Linked DNA regions of Homo sapiens. The protein of the gene in region 2 purifies or fractionates together with the protein of the main gene of each other region. This does not show direct contact. Each region holds a gene or a part of one and is shown on either strand. Other genes may lie near its edges.

Region 1 (5,250 bases), on a different chromosome or scaffold from region 2:
AACTGTAGGCCTTCTCCTAGGAAGAACTTGCTCCTGATATGGACACTTTAACACAGGAGCCCCAGGGGGATAGCAATAGCAGGGATTTACATTTTTAAAGATGGTAGCAGTGCTCCCAGTAACAGTGCAACACCAGGAGACCTCTGATAGTCAGCATAACGTGGACAAGATATTTCTTTTTACGACTTGCTCAGCATTTTAAACACATTGCTGGGTATTGCCATTTTCTAAATTGCTCTTCTTTTAGGGACAGACTGGAGGAAGACAACCTGCAGTATTACTCCATTATTGTCCAAATACTGATTCTGGTCTCAACCTCCCAAATATCATTAGCCATCCCCTACTTCATTCAATATCTCTTGTTTGCCAGAGTTTTACCAGGCCCTGAGCTATTCTCATATAGTCAATGAATGAATAAGTATTAGAACGTATCTTTTGTATCAACATTTTGGCTGTGGCTTCACAATAGCCCCTCTATGGAGTACAAAATGATACACAGCTCAGATATGGGACCTTTCGCTGAACAAGGGCATCAAAGTGCACATGGAAGGCAAAAACTAACAATGGATCATCTACCTCTGAAGGCCCTGGCCCAGAGTGATGAAGAGGTTCAGAGACTGTCTTATTTTCCTTTCTCACAAAAAATATCTGATACAAAAACCACACACTGCTTTTATAACTGAGTTCATATGAAGCTAAAAATCTACAAACTATTTAGTAACATAGTTTGCTAATGCCATTCAGATAATTGCTTTAAGCCGCTATCCCCAACATTAAGATAACACAAAGATGTAAGTATTCTCAACTTGTCCTGATAGATTAGGAACAGCAAATTCTGAAAAGTCATACCATACCTACATTAATTATCCATAGTTCAGAATTATTTGAAAATGTGACTACAGTCAATCTTGTCTCCCTCCAATACTAAACTTGGTAGGTACATTTTAGCATTCTTCCAGACTTAGAGACTTTCTGAGGGAATTCAGAGAAGTTCCCTTCAACAGAGGATAACATATCATCTGCTAAAACCTTTCTCCATAAAGCTTTCTGTAAAGAACCTCTAGTTGGATCCAGGGCTTGGTGCTCTGTAAGATATAACATTTATAAACATTCCTGGGAAAAAAGACATTACTACCTGAAAATATCAACAACTAAAATGACCTATCCTTAGCCACCAGGTATTGGTGTCCCATTCCTCCCTAATGTTTAGAGCAGACAGCCTTTCTTTTTATAGCGGGTCTATCCTTTTTTCTTATAAACTCTTCAATAAAGACATATTTTTAAGTAAAACCCCAAATAAATACATAAAAACACCCTATCCTTTGAACGAGCAATTCTACCTTTAGGAATTTATCTTACAGATATATACTAGTGCCAGCCGGTATGCCAAAAAAAAAAAACCCAACTTTATACACATGCATATATATTAAATATAATGTTCATCAATATGAGAATGGTTAAATAAACCATGGTATTTCCAATCCATGGAACTGCTGCTATATGACGCTTCAGAAGAATAAGTTAGAACTACCTGTGCTGATATGAAAAAGCACCAACATGGTGGGAAAAAAACAAATTGCAACACAGTGCATTCTATTACCCCATTTGGGTTTAAAAATAAACTTCTATTTCTAAACCTGAATAGATCACACAGTTACACTAATGAATACAATTATTGATTAAACTGTACATTATACATACTTTTTTATACATATGTTATATTTAACAATGAAAGTTAAAACCCTTGCTAATCATCTTTAGGTAAAGTAGCCACATGGCTTTTACAAGAAAATAATCAATTTTTTAACTCATTAAGCAGGAAAGCCATGCTCCTAGATGCTTCCAACAATCCATCTAACCACATGGGAAGACAATTTGGTCCAGTTGCTACCTGGGAAAACCTAGCTTCAGGGCAGGATCCACAGCTGCAAATAGTCCTGTGGGTTCCAGGCTAACCTCACCCAAGGGCTCCTTCTCCAGCCTTCATTCATCATGTATGGTCCTCTGCAAAAGCTAGAGGACTGCCTGGATGCAGTATTCCCCTCTGCATTCAGCTTATGGAAGGGTCCCCACAGGTAAGCCTCAGCCCCTTGTCTAATGGATCCTGGCATTGTCAGCAAACCCTGATTATAATACCTTCCCCATACTGCTGGGACCCCCATATCGGGGAGGAGCACATCCAGCCTCACCCAACCACTCAGTTCAGGGACTCTGGTCAGTACCCCACCAACACTGCTATCTGAAAGCCAGTAGAGAAATGAAGGTTGGCTTCTCCTCAGAAAAATAGGGTAGGGATCTCTGAATTACATCTAGTCACTGGGACATATAGGACAGCATTATAATTGGAACTTCAAATAGTCAACCCTCAAAGTGAGAATGGAGAGAAAATGGGGCCCAGCAAGAGAGAGGCTCAAAAGAGAGGGCAGTATTGAACAGAAGGGAAAGGAAAAGGGAAGAAAGCTGTGAACACAGAAAGTGAGTTGGGGAATTGAAAGGAGCGGTTAGGGCATGGAGAGAGAGAAAAGGGAAGAACTCTGCCCCCTGCCAAGTTGAGAGGACACACTAGAAAGGGACAGGTCCATCCCTCCCAACAAGCCTGATAAGGCCACTTCCCAGGCCAGGTCCCCTGCCAGCCCAGCCCCTGAAAGACAGGCTCTGCCTGCCTCCTCCCAGAGCATTAGATTAGGCTTTGTGGGAAAGTTGAAATCTTGATGATTTAGAAAGAGGCCCCTACAGCTTAACGTGCTGGCAATTTAACTAAGCGCTCCTGGTTCCTGATGAATACCAAGCCAGCCTGGCTTTGCTCCATCATGAAAGCACGCTCTCCTGACCCTCTGAGGGAGCAGCAGCTCAGTCAGCACTGCGGGGTGGCTCTTAATGGACAACAGTGAATTTCACATCAAACCAGGAAGTACCACTCATGCCTATCATGTGCTGCACCCTAAGAGACCATACAACCCAGGGCAGCTCACCCTCCCCCTTTCTTCTGTTTTCATAGGATTCTTAAAGGAATAGGCTTTACGGACAATGAAGATTGGGGGAAAAAAATTCTAGATGATAACTTCAGTTTCTATCATTAGCAACATCCACAAACAGTTCTCTATATGTGAAAGGAACTCAAAGTAGTTTGGGTTATTGATGAGTTAAAAAAAAAAAAAGCATCCCTCCTGCCCCCCAAGAAAGATCTGAGTTTCCCAGGAGAATCTGAGTTTTCTAAGAGCACGCTGGCACAGAAAGAACAATGTAACACAGCATCAATGAAGCCACACCCCTGGCAGAGGGCCTAGAATTTAATATAGTATACAGCCTCACCACCACTCAGGCCTCTTTTTGGCAAACTTCAGATCAAAACAGAAGTGGTTTCACATTGCATTTACCTCTTGTTACCTCCTAGATTCTTCATTCTGTGGCCTTCCTAGTATCATAGAACCACACAAGTTTTAGGAAAAGATAGGATTGAAGGGGCCCTCTCTGAAGGCCTGCCTACTCCAAACCATCCTACCACCCATCTACTGCTGCCTGAAAAACTCACTATTAGTGAGTCATATCTTTGGGTAAAGGCTGTATTGCCCCAGGTGGGATATGTGGAACTTGGGGAACATGGACAAACAACTTCAATAATTTATACCTTCTATTTGTGACAGGTGATGTAGTAGTTATCAGTTTAAGGCAATGATATCGTTTCCCTTTTAAACAAATTTTAGGGTTTTAAAAAATGGGTCAACTTTAAGAAGAATGTTAAACAACAGTACAGATGACATAAAGATAAGACAAAAATCATGCAGGGGAACACAAATGAAGTGTGAAAAACACTAGGGTTTACTTTCAAGACCCTCCCTTTAAATACAACTACCCGGCCGAAGGTGGTGTCACACGCCTGTGATCCCAGCACTTTGGGAAGCTGAGGCAGGAGGATCCCTTGAGGCTAGGACTTTAAGAATGGCCTAGTCAACATAGCAAGACCTAGTCAACATAGCAAAAAATACAGACGGGGGTCCTGCTATCTTGCAGTGGCAGTGGCCCCCGTGGCTCTTGCAGGTGCAGTGGCTCATGCAGCAGGATTGCCTGAGCTCAGGAGTTTGAGACCAGCCTGGGCAACATAGTGAGACCCCCATCTCTATGAAATATAAATAAAAAATTAACCAGGCACAGTGATATGTGCCTGTAGTCCTAGCTACTCAGGAGACTGAGGTGGGAAGATCTTTTGAGCCCAGGAGTTTGAGCCTGCACTGAGCTATGATCATGCCATGCACTCCAGTCTGGCAGATTGTCCCTAAAGCAAAATAATAATCAGTAAGTAAATACAATTATCCCTCATTAGTTTCTCACACAGCCACCACCAGACATTAAAGGCCACCAAAAATTAGTTCAACAAAGTTAGCAGAGCCAGAAGGGTGCAGAAACTGCGATCAAAGATTAGATTGGCTTTAGAGAGGGTGGTGTTGGGGAGGAAAGGCTGTTAGTGGGGAAGAGGCAGAAGGGCAAAGTCTGGAGTGTCCAGGAAGCTAGTGGCAGCAGGAAAGCACTAAGTATTCGACTTAACAATAAGGGCTCACAGAATAGCCACATTCTTACAAATGTCCCCCTCTTCACACACTTTCTCCCCAACTGACTCTGCCTAAGATTCTGAAACTGAAAGCTGACCAGTAAAGTACTGCGTGCAGCATTAAACGTTTAACGTGGCAGAAGTCTAGCACCATTTCCCAGGTCTTCCTCTCCCCAAATGTCTTTGTAGTTCAACTGTTTCCCATCCCTACTTTTCTCTGAATAAGAAGCATGCCTAGATAGTTTTCAGTTACGATGTTTTCTGAGCCAATGCTCTTGAGACTGGCTAATGATTCTTTAGTACAAATAATCAGGAAACTAGTGATAGGAACCTCTGAATAAGGCATTTACTCTTCAGTGAGTAAATTCAGGTAGATCAAACCCTCCTCCCACCATGACCATCAATATTCTCCCTTAAACCATTTAATGAAAAGAGTTTAGAAAAATATAAATCATCTGTTGTTTTGGCAAAGTCATACCACAAGCTTGCTGCCCACAGAGACTGGATTCAAACCATTTGTCTCCTTTGCTTTAGATGTGAGGACCTACCCAGTTTCCAAGATCTGACTTGGAGGCCTAAATCAATAATAATATTCCACATACATCTCCTAAAAGCTATAAAGGAATCATTCCAAGCTCACTTCCTTTTGAAGACTCCTTTGTGTAGTGCCCAAAATGGTGTGAACATTTTTGGTTGTAAAGTGG
Region 2 (5,250 bases):
AAGACCAGCCTGGCCAACATGGTGAAACCCCGTCTCTACTTAAAGAAATATACAAAAATTAGCCAGGCATAGTGGCGGGCGCCTGTAATCCCAGCTACTCGGGAGACTGAGGCAGGAGAACCCGGGAGGCAGAGGTTGCAGTGAGGCGAGATTGCGCCATTGTGCTCCAGCCTGGGCGACAGAGCAAGACTCCATCTCATACATAAATAAACAAATAAATAAGCACTGCTGTATATCACAGGGACACAGACAGGTTCCTGCTCTCCCTGAAGCTTGTGTTCCCTTTGGTAAGGCCACCAGTCTCACGGAAGCAAGGCTGGAAGTCCCACGAGAGCAAGCACTGCCTGCTTTGTTGGCCACTATGTACCCAGTGCTAGACCAGCACCTTGCACTAAACAGACACCCAATTAATAGTCATGGAATGGCAGCGTGTGCCTGTAGTCCTAGTTTGGGCCCAGAAATGAAAGATTGCAGTGAGCTATGACCACGCGCCACTGCACTCCAGCCTGGGCAACAGAGCAAGACCTTGTCTCAAGAAAATAAAAAATAAAAAAGTCATTGAATGAAGTATAGAACTAGGCAAGGCAATTTCAGATAGAAGTAGGTACCATCGGCCGGGCGCAGTGGCTCATGCCTGTAATCCCAGCACTTTGGGAGGCTGAGGCAGGCGGATCACCGAGGTCAGGAGTTCACGACCAGCCTGACCAACATGCAGAAATCCTGTCTCTACTAAAAATACAAAAATTAGCCAGGCGTGGTGGCGCATGCCTGTAGTCCCAGCTACTCAGGAAGCTGAGGCAGGAGAATTGCTTGAACCCGAGAGGCGGAGGTTGCAGTGAACCAAGATTGCACCATTGTACTCCAGCCTGGGCAACAAGAGTGAAACTCTGTCTCAAAAGTAAAAAATAAAAATAAAATGAAATGGTGCTGGCATGAAGAGCTCCTAGGCAAAGCAGATGCCACTTTTTATAGGATTTTCAGGGACAGGCTCTATGAGGTGATGTCTGAACTGAGACCCAAATGACAAGAAGAAGGTGTGAGTGTTGCAGACACTAGGGGCTGGTAGTACAAAGCCTAAGGTGGGAACAAGCTCTACACTTCTGAGGATCAGACAGGTGGCCGGTGAGGTGAGATGTAATGAGATGAGGTCTGAGGAGGGCAGAGGCTAGGCCTGGAACACCCTGAAAAGCCACAGTGGAGTCATTTGAATTTTTATTATTATAAGTACAACAGAAAACTATTGAAGGACTTTTTTTTTTTTTTGAGACGGAATCTCACTGTGTCGCCCGGGCTGCAGTGCAGTGGTGCGATCTCGGTTCACTACAAGCTCCACCTCTTGGGTTCACGCCATTCTCCTGCCTCAGCCTCCCGAGTAGCTGGGACTACAGGCGCCCGCCACCACGCACAGCAAATTTTTTTTTTTTGTATTTTTAGTAGAGATGGGGTTTCACCGTGTTAGCCAGGATGGTCTCGATCTCCTGACCTTGTGATCCACCCGCCTCGGCCTCCTAAAGTGCTGGGATTACAGGAGTGAGCCACCGCGCCATGCCCTATTGAAGGACTTTTGGCACTTTGTTTTTTGACGGTTTAAAACTTTTTATTTAAGTCACACAGACAAGTACCCAGATCCTTAGTACACAGCTCAACAAACTTTTACAAAGTGAGCACATCTGAGCCCAGGTCAAGAAACAGATCATTACCAGAAGCCCAGACATGCTTCTCACCACACACGGAACCCCAGAATCACTTCACCAACAAGCGTAACCACTATTCTGTCTTCTAACCCCATAGACGAGTTTGGCTTATTTTGCACTTTACACAAATGGAATGATAGAGTATGTGTCTGGCTTTTTTTTGAGACGGAGCTGTTGCCCAGGCTGGAGTGCAGTGGCGCTATCTCAGCTCACTGCAACCTCCGCCTCCCAGGTTCAAATGATTCTCATGCCTCAGCCTCCAGAGTAGCTGGGGTTACAGGCATGAGCCACCACGCCTGGCTAATTTTTGTATTTACTTTAGTAGAGATGGGGGTTTCGCCATGTTGGTCAGGCTGGTCTCGCACTCCCGACCTCAGGTGATCCACCCACCTCGGCCTCCCCAAGTGCTGGGATTACGAGCGTGAGCCACCGCGCCTGGCCTGTGTCTGGCTTCTTTAGCTCCATATTACGTTTGTGAGAGCCACCCATATTATCAGGTGTAGCTGTAGTTTTCTTTTTTTCTTATACATTCTATTATGTGACTATACCTCATTTATACATTCTACTGTTTGTTTGTTTGTTTTTTTGCTTTTTTGCTTTTTTGTTTTTTTTGAAACAGAGTCTCGCTCTGTCACCCAGGCTGGAGTACAATGGCGCCATCTCGGCTCACTGCAACCTCTGACTCCCAGGTTCACATGATTCTCCTGCCTCAGCCTCCTGAGTAGCTGGGATTACAGGCATGTGCCACCGTGCCCAGTTAATTTTTGTATTTTTAGTAGAGACGGGGTTTCGCGATATTGGTCAGGCTGGTTTTGAACTCCCAACCTTAGGTGATCCGCCTGCCTCGGCCTCCCAGAGTACTGGGATTACAGGCATAAGCCACTGTGCCCGGCCCATTCTACTGTTGAAGGAGATCTGGATCATTCCCAGTTTGGTTTTTTTGCAAATAATGCTGCTATAAATATTCTTGTAGATGTATTTAGGTACAAATACGTGTGCATTTCTATTGGATAAAAACCTAGCAGTAAAACTGCTGATTCTTAAGACATGCAAGTATTCAGCGCTAATAGATATTGCCAGTTTTCTGTAGTTCTTAGTGTGAGAGGTCTGGTTGCTCCACACGCCACTGGAATGAAGAAGACTCCTTTGACCACTGTGTGGAGAATGGGTAGTAGAAGGTCTGCAATATATACAGAAAAAGACCAAACTGAGCTGGGCGTGGGGCCTCAAGCCTGTAATCCCAGCACTTTTGGAGGCCGAGGCCAGCGGATCATGAGGTCAGGAGTTCGAGACCAGCCTGACCAACATGGCGAAACCCCGTCTCTACTAAAAATACAAAGTTAGCAGGGCATGGTGGTGCATGCCTGTAATCCCAGCTACTCGGAAGGCTGAGGCAGGAGAATCTCCTGAACCCAGCAGACAGAGGTTACAGTGAGCCGAGATCATGCCACTGCAATCCAGCCTGGGTGACAGAGCAAGACTCCATCTCAAAAAAAAAAAAAAAGAAAAAGAAAAGACCAAACTGAGGTCACGGAAGACATCCAGGAGAGATGAGAGTGGCTTGGACTAGGCCAGTGGCTATGGAAATGGAGAAATATGAGCTGATTCAGGCTATAAGCACAGTGTTTTCTTCTTCATTTATGATGACACTTTTCACTAAGACAAAAAGATGGTGAAGAATGAGACAGAGAAGCACATACTACAAAGGGAAGCAAACACTTTAATCAAAAGAGTAAAAATCTCAAATAGGGCCAGGTGTGGTGGCTCATGCCTGTAAAATCCCAACACTTTGGGAGGTGGAGGCAGGAGAATCGCTTGAGTCCCAGCATTCAAGACCAGCCTGGGCAACATAGTGAGACTCTATCTCAACAAAAATTTTAAAATTAGCTGGGTCTGGCCAGGTGCGGTGGCTCACACCTGTAATCCCAGCACTTTGGGAGGCCGAAGCAGGCTGATCAGCTGAGGTCAGGAGTTTGAGACCAGCCTGACCAACATGGAGAAACTTTGTCTCTACTAAAAATACAAAGTTAGCAGGGCGTGGTGGCGCATGCATGTAATCCCAGCTACTCGGGAGGCTGAGGCAGGAGAATCACCTGAACACGGGAGGCAGAGGTTACAGCGAGCCAAGATCGCGCCATTGCACTCCAGCCTGGGCAACAAGAGCAAAACTTCGTCTCAAAAAAGAAAAAATTAGCTGAGTGTGGTGGTACAAGCCTGTAATCCCAGCTACTCTAATGCTAAGGTGAGAGGATCACTTGAGCCCAGGAGGTCGAGGCTGCAGTGAGCCATGATCATGCCACTGCACTCCAGTCTGGGCAACAGTGTGAGACCCTCTCTCAAACAAAAGCAGAAACCTCAGACAAGTAGATCATTCAAAATTGGTAAATCCAAAAGGCAATTCTAGGTGTGTTTGGATCCACAAGCCTCCAGTAAGTGACCTAACCAGGGAGGTAAAGTAAGGTGTCAGCATGGGTCCTGGCCCTGCCATGAGACAGGAAGAAGAGAGAGCAGGTGTTTCTCTGAGGTTGCTGGGGATGATATAATAGAACTGAAACTCTCAGCCCTTTCCCTGGAGAAGCACAAAATGCTGCCTTGGATGGTATGTGCCAGATAAGACACATGAGGAGCCAGGCACAGTGGCTCATGCCTGTAATCCCAGCAATTTGGGAGGCTGAAGCAGGAGGATTGCTTGAGCCCAGGAGTTCGAGATCAGCTAGGCAACATGGTAAGACATGAACTCTCCAAAAAAATTAGCCAGGCATGTTGTTCCGCACCTTTAGTCCCAGCTACTCGGGAGGCCGAGGTGAGAAGATCATTTGAGCCCAGGAGGTTGAGGATGCAGTGAGCCATGATTGCACCACTGCATTCCAGCCTGGATGACAGAGTGAGATCCTGTCTCAAAAAGCAAACACACACACACACGAAAGCAAGAAGCAAGACAGCTGTGGAATTCCAGAGATAGGAGACAGGCAAAGAACCTGACCTGGTGCAACGAAGATAAAGGTAACGGAGCCAGATGAGGAGGCTTAAATGCCTTACAAGAGTTAGGCGTTCAAGTTACAAGTCTTGGCCAGGCGCGGTGGCTCACGCTTGTAATCCCAGCACTTTGGGAGGCTGAGGCAGGCGGATCACGAGGTCAGGAGATCAAGACCATTCTGGCCAACATGATGAAACCCCGTCTCTACTAAAAATACAAAAAATTAGCCCGGCGTGGTGGCATGTGCATGTAGTCCCAGCTACTCAGGAGGCTGAGGCAGGAGAATCACTTGAACCTGGGAGGTGGAGGTTGCAGTGAGCCAAGATCACACCACTGTACTCCAACCTGGTGACAGAGTGAGACTCCGTCTCAAAAAAAAAAAAAAAAAAAGAGTTCAGTCTTGATGGGCTTCTCTGTGAAGAGACCCTAAAGGATTTGAGCAGAGAAAAGACCAGTTGAAAGCTATGTTTAGGCCAGATGCAGTGACTTACACCTGTAATCCCAGCAATTTGGTAGGCCAGGGCAGGAGGAGCCCAGGAGTTCAAGACCAGCCTGAGCAAATAGCAAGACCCCATGTCT
Region 3 (5,018 bases), on a different chromosome or scaffold from region 2:
AATCATATTATATTTCAATATTAGACTGCTGTGGCTCTAGAACAACAGAAAAGCGTAACTTTCAAACAGCTTAGGGAAAAAGCACTGAAATGTAGATGTCGTCAATCAGCCTCAGGCATTATTGATCCTGTGCCATCCACACACCCTTAAGGTTTTTCACAGCACTCTGACGGTATTATGTGTGTTTTGCAAATGACGAATCAACAGTATGCTGAATAATCAGCAATGAAACACAGGAGATAAATTAAATGTGTTTTTCCAAATGTCAGAATATCGAGGTTCCCAGGAGTTGGCAAAACTTCTCAAGTGGCCATCCAGACTCAGGCTGTGCAGGATAAGGCTTCCTTACGTAGTGAACGGTTGAGAATATTTGCTCCCCACACCCAGAGCCATTCAGGCATATACTGTGCAAAAAGAAACTAAAAATGAAAGAGAAAAAGGTTGTAAGGTTAGAACCCAAAATCAACACTGAAGGAACAAGTACACAGACCAGCACATGAAACCCACCAATCACAACAAATACCCACCAATCAATCACAACAAATACCCACCAATCACAACAAATACCCACCAATCAATCACAACAAATACCCACCAATCACAACAAATACCCACCAATCACAACAAATACCCACCAATCAATCATAACAAATACCCACCAATCACAATACACACCAATCAAACAAATACCCACCAATCACAATACCCACCAATCAAACAAATACCCACCAATCACAACAAATACCCACCAAGCAATCACAACAAATACCCACCAATCAATCACAACAAATACCCACCAATCACAACAAATACCCACCAATCACAACAAATACCCACCAAGCAATCACAACAAATACCCACCAATCAATCACAACAAATACCCACCAATCACAACAAATACCCACCAATCACAACAAATACCCACCAATCACAACAAATACCCACCAATCAATCACAACAAATACCCACCAGTCACAACAAATACCCACCAATCACAACAAATACCCACCAATCAATCACAACAAATACCTACCAATCACAAACACCCACCAATCAATCACAATACCCACCAATCAATCACAACAAATACCCACCAATCACATTACCCACCAATCAATCACAATAAATACCCACCAATCACAATACCCACCAATCAATCACAATAAATACCCACCAATCGATCCCAACAAATACCCACCAATCACAATAAATACCCACCGATCAATCACAACAAATACCCACCAATCAATCACAACAAATACCCACCAGTCACAACAAATACCCACCAATCACATTAAATACAACAAAGGAAAAAGCCTCCAGGTACTACTGTACTGAATACCTACTTTTGCCTAAGATCTTACCCTAGATTCTACATGGAACAGAAACATGACCACCACCCACCTACCCGACTTTCTGTAATGAGGCTGGACTGTCCTGCATGTAAATACAATTCTGTCTTTACTTAACGTGATATGAACAAAATGTTCACTGGTTAAGAACCACAAAATCGGCTGGGCACGCTGGCTCATGCCTGTAATCCCAACACTTTGGGAGGCCGAGGCGGGTGGATCATGAGGTCAGGAGATCGAGACCATCCTGGCTAACAGGGTGAAACCCCATCTCTACTAAAAATACAAAAAATTAGCCAGGCGTGGTGGCGGGAGCCTGTAGTCCCAGCTACTCAGGAGGCAGAGGCAGGAAAATGGTGTGAACCGGGGAGGCGGAGCTTGCAGTGAGCCGAGATCGCGGCACTGCACTCCAGCCTGGGCAACAGAGCAAAACTCTGTCTCAAAAAAAAAAAAAAAAACACCACAAAATCATTATAGGAATAAATCAGTTGGAACAGACAGACGCATACGTGGTTAGTACTCTATGAGAAAACTGGGGCTTGAGGGGTAGTATGGAACAAAGTTCAACAAGAAAACAGGTCAGAAACACCAGTACCTTGGGATGGTATCTTGACCTATGATGGGGGTGCTCAGGGGACCAGGGAAGGGAGTCCTGCTGATGCTGCTCTGCTTCAGGGTCTCACTCAGGGCCTTTGTGCTAGCAGCAGACATAGGGCAATGTCTGAAAACAAATTTGGTCGTCACACTGGGAGTGGATGCTACTGGTATCTAGTGGGTGGAGGCCCAGGATGGTGTTCAACATCCTACAATACACAGGACGCTCCCCATGTCAAGGAATTACCTGCTCTCAATGCCAACAGTGCTGAGGTGGAGAAAGCCTACACTCCTCTAACAGATTTGTTCAGAACCGAATGAAAGTTCTAACACCGTGTATACGAAAGAGAAGAGAGACAGGCCCTTGGCAAGTACTGACATTCTAGTCTTGAACTGAACTGATGAATGATAATAGAGGTCATTCAATCCTCTTGTCAATAAATGGACACAGGTTACTCTCCAGGGAGGACACACCCACACCCACACACACACACACTCACGCACTTTGTGAACAAAATCACAGCAGCAAAAGCTATCAGAGAAATATGCCATGGACAAAACAGCAAAGGATGAATCAAATCTTTGATGTAAAATTGGAAATAAAAAATGATAGTGTTGAAAATAATTTGAGTAACATAAAATGAAAACAGAAAGTTTTAACAACTTTATACAGAAAACTACTCCAGGAATTAAATCAGCTTAACAGAATTTCTTGGCAGAAAAATACATTCTCAAGGAAAGTTTATCAATGTGAACAAAATTTAATTTTGAGTAAACTGTTCGTGTTTTATAAACACAGTCAAAACATCTACTGCACCTAAACCTGATCCTCATATCTTTATTTCTAAAAAAATTTTATGGTCAGTGACTTCTAAGACTACTTTTTAGGTTTCTCTGCTTTTCTCAAGTAATTAAAGGACCTGGAAACAACTACTTAAATAAAACTGTTTCTTCTTTTTTTTTTTTTTTTTTTTTTTTTGAGATAAGAGTCTAGCTCTGTCACCCAGGCTGGAGTACAGTGACGTGATCAGCTCACTGCCACCTCCGCATCCTGGGTTCAAGCGATTCTCATGCCTCAGACTCCCAGGTAGCTGGGACTACAGGCGTGCACCACCATGACCAGTTAATTTTTATATTTTTAGTAGAGATGGGGTTTCACCATGTTGGCAAGGCTGGTCTCGAACTCCTGACCTCAGGTGATCCACCAGCCTCAGCCTCCCAAACTGCTGGGATTAGAGATGTGAGCCACCACCACGCCCGACCAAAACTGCTTCTTATTAATCTCTCACTTTTCATAAAAGTCATAATTAACTGTTGATATACTTACATGTTTATTTGGTAGTGGCAAATCTAATACTCTTCATGCAAACAGTCCCAAAAATATCTGTTTGATAATTAAGAAAACTCCGAATATTAAAAAAAAAAAAAAATTCGGACCAGGTACAGTGACTCACACTGGTATTTTTTTTTTTTTTTTTTGTGAGACGGAGTCTTGCTCTGTCGTCCAGGCTGGAGTGCAGTGGTGTGATCTCGGCTCACTGCAAGCTCTGCCTCCCGGGTTCACGCCATTCTCCTGCCTCAGCCTCCTGAGTAGCTGGGACTACAGGCGCCCACCACCACGCCTAGCTAATTTTTTTGTATTTTTAATAGAGACGGGGTTTCACGGTGTTAGCCAGGATGGTCTCGATCTCCTGACCTCGTGATCCGCCCGCCTTGGCCTCCCAAAGTGCTGGGATTACAGGCTTGAGCCACCACGCCCTGCCAGCTCACGCTTGTAAATCCCAGCACTTTGGGAGGCCAAGGCGGGTGGATCACCTGAGATCAGGAGTTCGAGACCAGCCTGACCAACATGGTGAAACTCCATCTCTACTAAAAACACAAAAATTTGCTGGGCGTGGTGGCAGGCACCTGTAGTCCCAGCTACTCCGGAGGCTGAGGCAGGAGCATCACTTGAACCCGAGAGGTGGAGGTTGCAGTGAGCCAAGATCGCACCATTACACTCCAGCCTGGGCAACAAGAGCGGAATTCCATCTCAAAAAAAAAAAAATTCTAAACTAGGGCACATCTCTTTACTACACCAGATAAAGGAACTGAAATATATTGTAATAGATAATTATGCATTCTCAAATTAATACTTACGATCACAATTTCAAATATCTAAGAAAGTTACTTTCTACAGTACTAAAAGGTACCAATCCTTTGTCATGCCTAAACAATAAGCTTAAAATAAAAATTCTATGCTTCTTGAAAAAATTAGTCTAAGACTATACAGAGATATTATTTGATAAAATGGTTGCATGAAATATAGCCCTATCTTGTGGTTTTGTGGTTTTTTTGGATTATATTTTTCACTGAGAGGTAACCCTCAAGCAGTACTAGAATCTTTTACTTTGAAATTCCCATGTAAATACTTAGTATTTTTATAGTCCTAACATCCACTTACAGCAGCATATTTCTTTTTTTTTTTTTGGAAACAGAGCCTTGCTCTGTCGCCTAGGCTGGAGTGCAGTAGCGTGATCTTGGCTCACTGCAACCTCCGCCTCCAGGGTTCAAGCGATTCTCCTGCCTCAGCCTCCCAAGTAGCTGGGACTACAGGCACACACCACTAAGCCTAGCTAATTTTTGTATTTTTAGTACAGACAGGGTTTCACCATATTGGCCAGGTTGGTCTCGAACTCCTGACCTTAGGTGATCCACCCACCTCAGCTTCCCAAAGTGCTGGGATTACAGATGTGAGCCACCACACCCCAGCCAAAGTAGTATATTTCACTTTAAGGTGCCACATAGATTGAACTTTTGAAAATTCTTAAGGTAATAATTTCACAAAAGAAAATTTAGTGTCTTTGGTCAGGCACGGTGGCTCACGCCTGTAATCTCAGCACTTTGGGAGGCTGAGGCAGGCAGATCATGAGGCCGGAGATCAAGACCATCCTGGCTAACACGGTGAAACCCCGTCTCTACTAAAAATACAAAAATTAGCCAGGCGTGGTGGCAGGTGCCTGTAGTCCCAGCTACTCGGGAAGCTGAGGCAGGAGAATGGCATGAACCCGGGAGGCGGAGCTTGCAGTGAGC
Region 4 (5,250 bases), on a different chromosome or scaffold from region 2:
GCTTTACATATCCTGTTCTGGTGGCAAATAACATAGAAGCTCCTATTTCTCTTGCCCACTCCCACCCTTCTGTACAAAGAAGATCAAGTGTACAACTACATTCTTCCAAAGGCCTTTACAAAAGCTTTTATTTGCCTGGTTCTAATAGGACAACTCAAATTTGATATGTCAAACAAACAAACTGAAAAGGTCTTTTAGTTATGTAATGATAACAGGGCCTAAGTCCAATGGGGAGTGGATCTCCCAGCTACTTTACTCCATTTCTGTGATACCTTTTGTTGTTGGGTAAGCCACATCCTGGAATAATGTAATCACATGATGCACCCTTTCATGCTCCTCTTACAGGATCCTTTTGTAGCCTTGACGCACTTCCAGTCCGCTAACTGTGCTTTAGTATGATTTATGTGACAATTTCAGTGTTTTCTAGATAGTATCTTAGAGTGGAGAAAGCATGCAGCACGAGGCATCAAAGGCTCTGAGCTCTGGACCCACATTTGCCATATACTAGCCATGTGACATTAGGCAAATCACCAAAATTTGCAAAATTTGCAAAACAGATATTAAAATACCTACGCTGCCAATCTCATAGTATTGTAAGGGTCAAATAAAATATGTTAAATACTTTCCAATTTTAAGGTACAGTAAATATGAAATATAATAGCTTGCTTGCTCATTAGATGACAAAATTAATCTCTGAAAGGAACTAAGTCACACATAAGGCTCACTTTCATGTTTCTTGAAGTATACAGCCTTTCACAGTTTGATTTAAACAAAACTAGCTAGTCAGACAAATATACATTGGCAAAGCATTGCTTTAACTGCTTTATTGTTATAATCAAATGTAGACAATGGTCCTCCTTGTCTAAACTTTGCTTTAGTTATATTACATAGCATTTAAACTGTTTGGATAATAATGTTGTTGGTTTGCCTATGAGTAATATTGGAAATTAATATGGCATAAGACAGAAACTAGAAAACATTTGAACTGTTCCCTTTTTTTTATTCAGTAGGAAAATGCAATTAAATATGTTACACAAGATAAAAGGAACTTGAATGATTTAATGAAAATGCAGTACAAGAATGCAAATGAGGCTGGACATGGTGGCTCATGCCTGTAATCCCAGCACTCTAAGAGGCCAAGGTGGGCAGACTGCTTAAGCTCAGGAGTTTGAGACCAGCCTGGGCAACATGGCAAAGCCCCGACTCTATCAAAAATACAAAAAATTAGCTGGGCGTGGTGGTGCATGCCTGTAGTCCCGGCTACTCGAAAGGCTGAGATGGGAAGATTGCTTGAGCCTGGGAGACAGAGGTTGCAGTGAGCTGAGATTGTGCTCCTGCACTCCAGCCTGGGCAACAAAGCAAGATCCTGTTTCAAGAAAAAATAAAAGAAAAAAGAAAAAAATTGTTCAATATCTCAGATAGAGGCTGTATGGTGTGGCAGTAAAAGTACTGGGCTAGGAACTGAAAGAGGTTCTACATCTGCATTCTAGATCTGGCTCTTAGGTCTCATTTGCTATGCAATTTCAAGGAACTCAGACTATTCTTTCACTATTTATTGCATACCTATCGAATGAAGGTACCATGATGAAACTCTAACCATAAGAAACCCATTCTGGTGAAAGAGGGACACATGTAAATAATTTAAAAATAATGTAAAATGTACTAAGGTATAGATTATGCATAGGGGTTGTGTGAGAACTCATAAAAAGCCATCAGAAAAGGTAGGAGAGAGGATGCGGGTGTATGAGTTACACCATTTCCCTTTCATTTCATAAATTAAATGACTACATTCTAGATGCTGTAAACTGCTTCAAAATTATATAAACACTCATCATAGTTCTACAATAACTCTTCTATCTAGGGAAATATGTCACCTGTTGCTAGAATTTTGCTCTCTTTATATGTTCCCTCCAAATCATTTCTCATATTTACTTTTGAGATTCAGGCTTCCATCTTACCATGCTGTATTTCATAATGTCCTAAGCCTACAAAAGCAGGTTGTATACAAAAGCCTAGGGCCATTGTGTAAAGGAAAAGAGGTAGGGTGGACCCTTCTCAACCCTTTCCTTCTCTGCAGGGCTTTGCATTCCTAAGGATGGGCCCCTCCTCTGCTTGGGGATGTTACCTAAATCATAAAATGATATTACTCAAAGCAATGGAACTTCAAAAGCATTTCCTTCCCAGGCCCTACTATAAGATTTCTTTTGGCATAAACTGTTCATTGTAATGTATTAAGTATCAGACTTTTGATGACTTGTTATACTTAAGTCACAAAACTACAGAAAACTTTTAAGTTTTTAAAATGGATTTAAGAGCTGCATGTGGGAGTACAGGCATCAGGAACCCCCTACCCCTTCCCTCCCTTTTCCCCAGTCAGGCCTGCCCTGTCCACTTTAAAATGCAGTTATTTGGGTGATGCCCTGTTACTAACTTAACTGACAACTGCTAGTTGAAATCAACTTGTCACTGTAAACACTTTGCTTTCTTTATTTCTTTTTTTTTTTTTTTGAGATGGAGTCTCACTCTGTCGCCCAGGTTGGCGCACAGTGGCGTGACCTCAGCTCACTGCAACCTCCGCCTCTCCGGAGCTCAAGCAATTCTCGTGCCTCCGTCTCCTGAGTAGCTGGGACTACAGGTGCCCGCCACCATGCCTGACTAATTTTTGTATTTTCAGCAGACACGGGGTTTCACCATGTTGGCCAGGCTGGTCTCGAACTCCTGACCTCAGGTGATCTGCCTGAGCTGGGATTACAGGCGGGAGCCACCACACCTGGCCGAACACTTTGCTTTTCTAGTGATTATTATATCATCTTTCTCTCTTGTAGCACTTCTGGTGGGAAAGGTGCAAAAAGGAATTAACAGTAGAGATGAGTCTCTGATTCCTAAGTCCTTCTCTACCAAGACTTCCAAGTTGGACAAAAGAGGTAGAGAAAGACTTAGGAATCAAAGACTCTTATGAGTATGGTATCTACTTTCAAAACAGTCATTTCATTTTATTCACATTTAGTATGGAAACTTTATTTTTCTCAATTCAAAATTGAGATTATAATCCAAAGGAAAGCTGAATTGAAAATTTTAACAGATTAATACCAGTGCCCCAAGTGGTGTTTACCATGCCTTCACAACAACCTCATGTTCTAGGGGCCATTAGAAAATGAAGTGGCTACTGACATGGAATGGAGCTAGGGAAATGTAACTTTTTACTTCATACACTCCTAAGCCATTTGAACTTTTTTACATCAATCATGCCATTTAGAATAAAAAATTCCACTTCCTACCAATCTAAGTACAAACTTGTCACCTTGACCTTCAAGGTATTTGACAAATATGGTCCTGGATTCCTTTTCAATTTTAATCCATTACTTTCTTCTGTGAACTGTTGCCTTATACTCTTAGCAAACTATCCCACAGAACTCTCTTATCCAATTTAACTGACATCACACCATTAGGCTATTCTCCAATGTGATGGGAACAACACTTCTGGTTCCCCCTCTGTGAAGTGTGCTTATCAATGGTGACAGTGTGTTTATTCACAAACCTATTTATGCCAGTTGTGCTTATTACTGAAAGTACGTAAATACTATGTAAAGCAATGAAGTATAAATGAGAAGAGAAAAATGACAGCAGCAATTAACACTGAGTACTTACTACCTGCCAGGCACTGTTCTAAATGCTTTACATGAATTAACTCCTATAATATTCACAAGAAACCTAGAAATGGATACTACCATTATGCCTGTTTTACAAAGGCAAAAACTGAGTAACTTGTCTATGGCCTATACAACTAATAAGTGGCAAAGCAATTTGGCTCCAGAGCTCAAGTACTTAACTACTGTACTACATAGACTCTCTAGTAGTTATTTCTAAAACACCACACTGAATGCTTTCGAAAGACCAGATAAAAGTGAGCACACAAGGCCGGGTGCGTTGGCCCACGCCTCTAATCCTAGCACTTTGGGAGGCCAAGGCGGGTGGATCACCTGAGGTCGGGAGTTCCAGACCAGCCTGACCAACATGGAGAAACCCCGTCTCTACTAAAAATACAAAATTAGCCGGGCATGGTGGCACATGCCTGTAATCCCAGCTACTCGGGAGGGTGAGGCTGGAGAATCGCTTGAACCCGGGAGGTGGAGGTTGTGGTGAGCCGAGATTGTGCCATTGCATTCAAGCCTGGGCAACAAGAGCGAAACTCTGTCTCAAAAAAAAAAAAAAAAGTGAGCATACAGATAACACATAAACTTGCTGTTAGGTGTGGGAGACAACAGAAAAGTCTGGAAGGACATTTCATAAACACCTAGAAAGATTCTGCAGTGAGACTGCTTTGCAAGTGACTTTAAGTATTCATTCCATGTTAAAAATACCATAGATAACGTAGGCCAGGGGCTAGCAAGCTCTTTCTATAAAGGGCCAAAAGTAAACATTTTAGATGTTGCAGGCCATGTGGTTTCTGTTGCAATCACAAATATTCAATTCTGCCTTGGAGGGTAAGAGGAGTCATAGACAATACATAAACAAATGAGAAAGGCTGTGTTCTAATAAAGCTTTACTTATAAAAACAGGCAACAGGGTCCTACACTCCAAGAAAAGGCTGAGGCCTTATGTTAAAAGAATGGCAAAAGAATGTTTATGTGTTCGTTAAAATGTTATGCATATAACTATTATCTGTATGATTCCCTGCTTTAACTTACTTCTTCAGTTAACCAACTAATGGCCCTAAGTCTGCTTTCAGTGACTGAGTGAACGGAATGTTATAGATCCCCTAGAACCTGCATTTAATTCATATTCCTATCATTATGCCTGATATAACTTGGTTATAACTTTAAACTACTAATTTTAAAATGCATGCATCATTACAGATTAGTATGGGTATACTCGTATATAAAGACTGTCATCTCTGTTGCAAAATTGCTGATAATTTGAAAATAATTATTAAAATTGCTGCTTCCCTGAGGGAGTAAGGGGAGTGGAGGGTGGAGAAAAAAAATTGCTGCTTCCTGGCCAATCTTCTGGGGGTTGACAATATATTTTATGAGTATTCTAAAAGTTGTATACTTAAGCAAAACAAATAAACAAAAATGCTTACTTTAAACTTGAGATCAAGGTTGTGCCTTACTTACCTTTGTATCCCCAGCAGTTACTCAGTAGAAGTCCAGGTCTAATCCACTCATTTTACAGTGCTTAGGGAGCCTGGCCCAAACTCAGAGTGAGTTATAAGGGCTGGGACAGGAATTCAGATTTCCTGATTCCTAG

Evidence for each region. The genes of interacting proteins can lie anywhere in the genome.
Region 1: the proteins of TM4SF5 (region 2) and CYSTM1 purify together in Homo sapiens (affinity purification with mass spectrometry; one large-scale study listed by BioGRID and IntAct). This does not show direct contact.
Region 3: the proteins of TM4SF5 (region 2) and HSDL1 purify together in Homo sapiens (affinity purification with mass spectrometry; one large-scale study listed by BioGRID and IntAct). This does not show direct contact.
Region 4: the proteins of TM4SF5 (region 2) and SLC31A1 purify together in Homo sapiens (affinity purification with mass spectrometry; one large-scale study listed by BioGRID and IntAct). This does not show direct contact.

Annotation. Positions count from the first base shown.
Region 1 is NC_000005.10:140,180,538-140,185,787, reverse strand, and holds part of CYSTM1 (cysteine-rich and transmembrane domain-containing protein 1), read right to left. Parts: intron 1-5,250.
Region 2 is NC_000017.11:4,774,014-4,779,263, forward strand, and holds part of TM4SF5 (transmembrane 4 L6 family member 5), read left to right. Parts: intron 1-5,250. UniProt on the Homo sapiens protein: Acts as a lysosomal membrane arginine sensor.
Region 3 is NC_000016.10:84,124,310-84,129,327, forward strand, and holds part of HSDL1 (inactive hydroxysteroid dehydrogenase-like protein 1), read right to left. Parts: intron 420-5,018; coding exon 321-419; 3' UTR 1-320.
Region 4 is NC_000009.12:113,223,394-113,228,643, reverse strand, and holds part of SLC31A1 (high affinity copper uptake protein 1), read right to left. Parts: intron 1-5,250.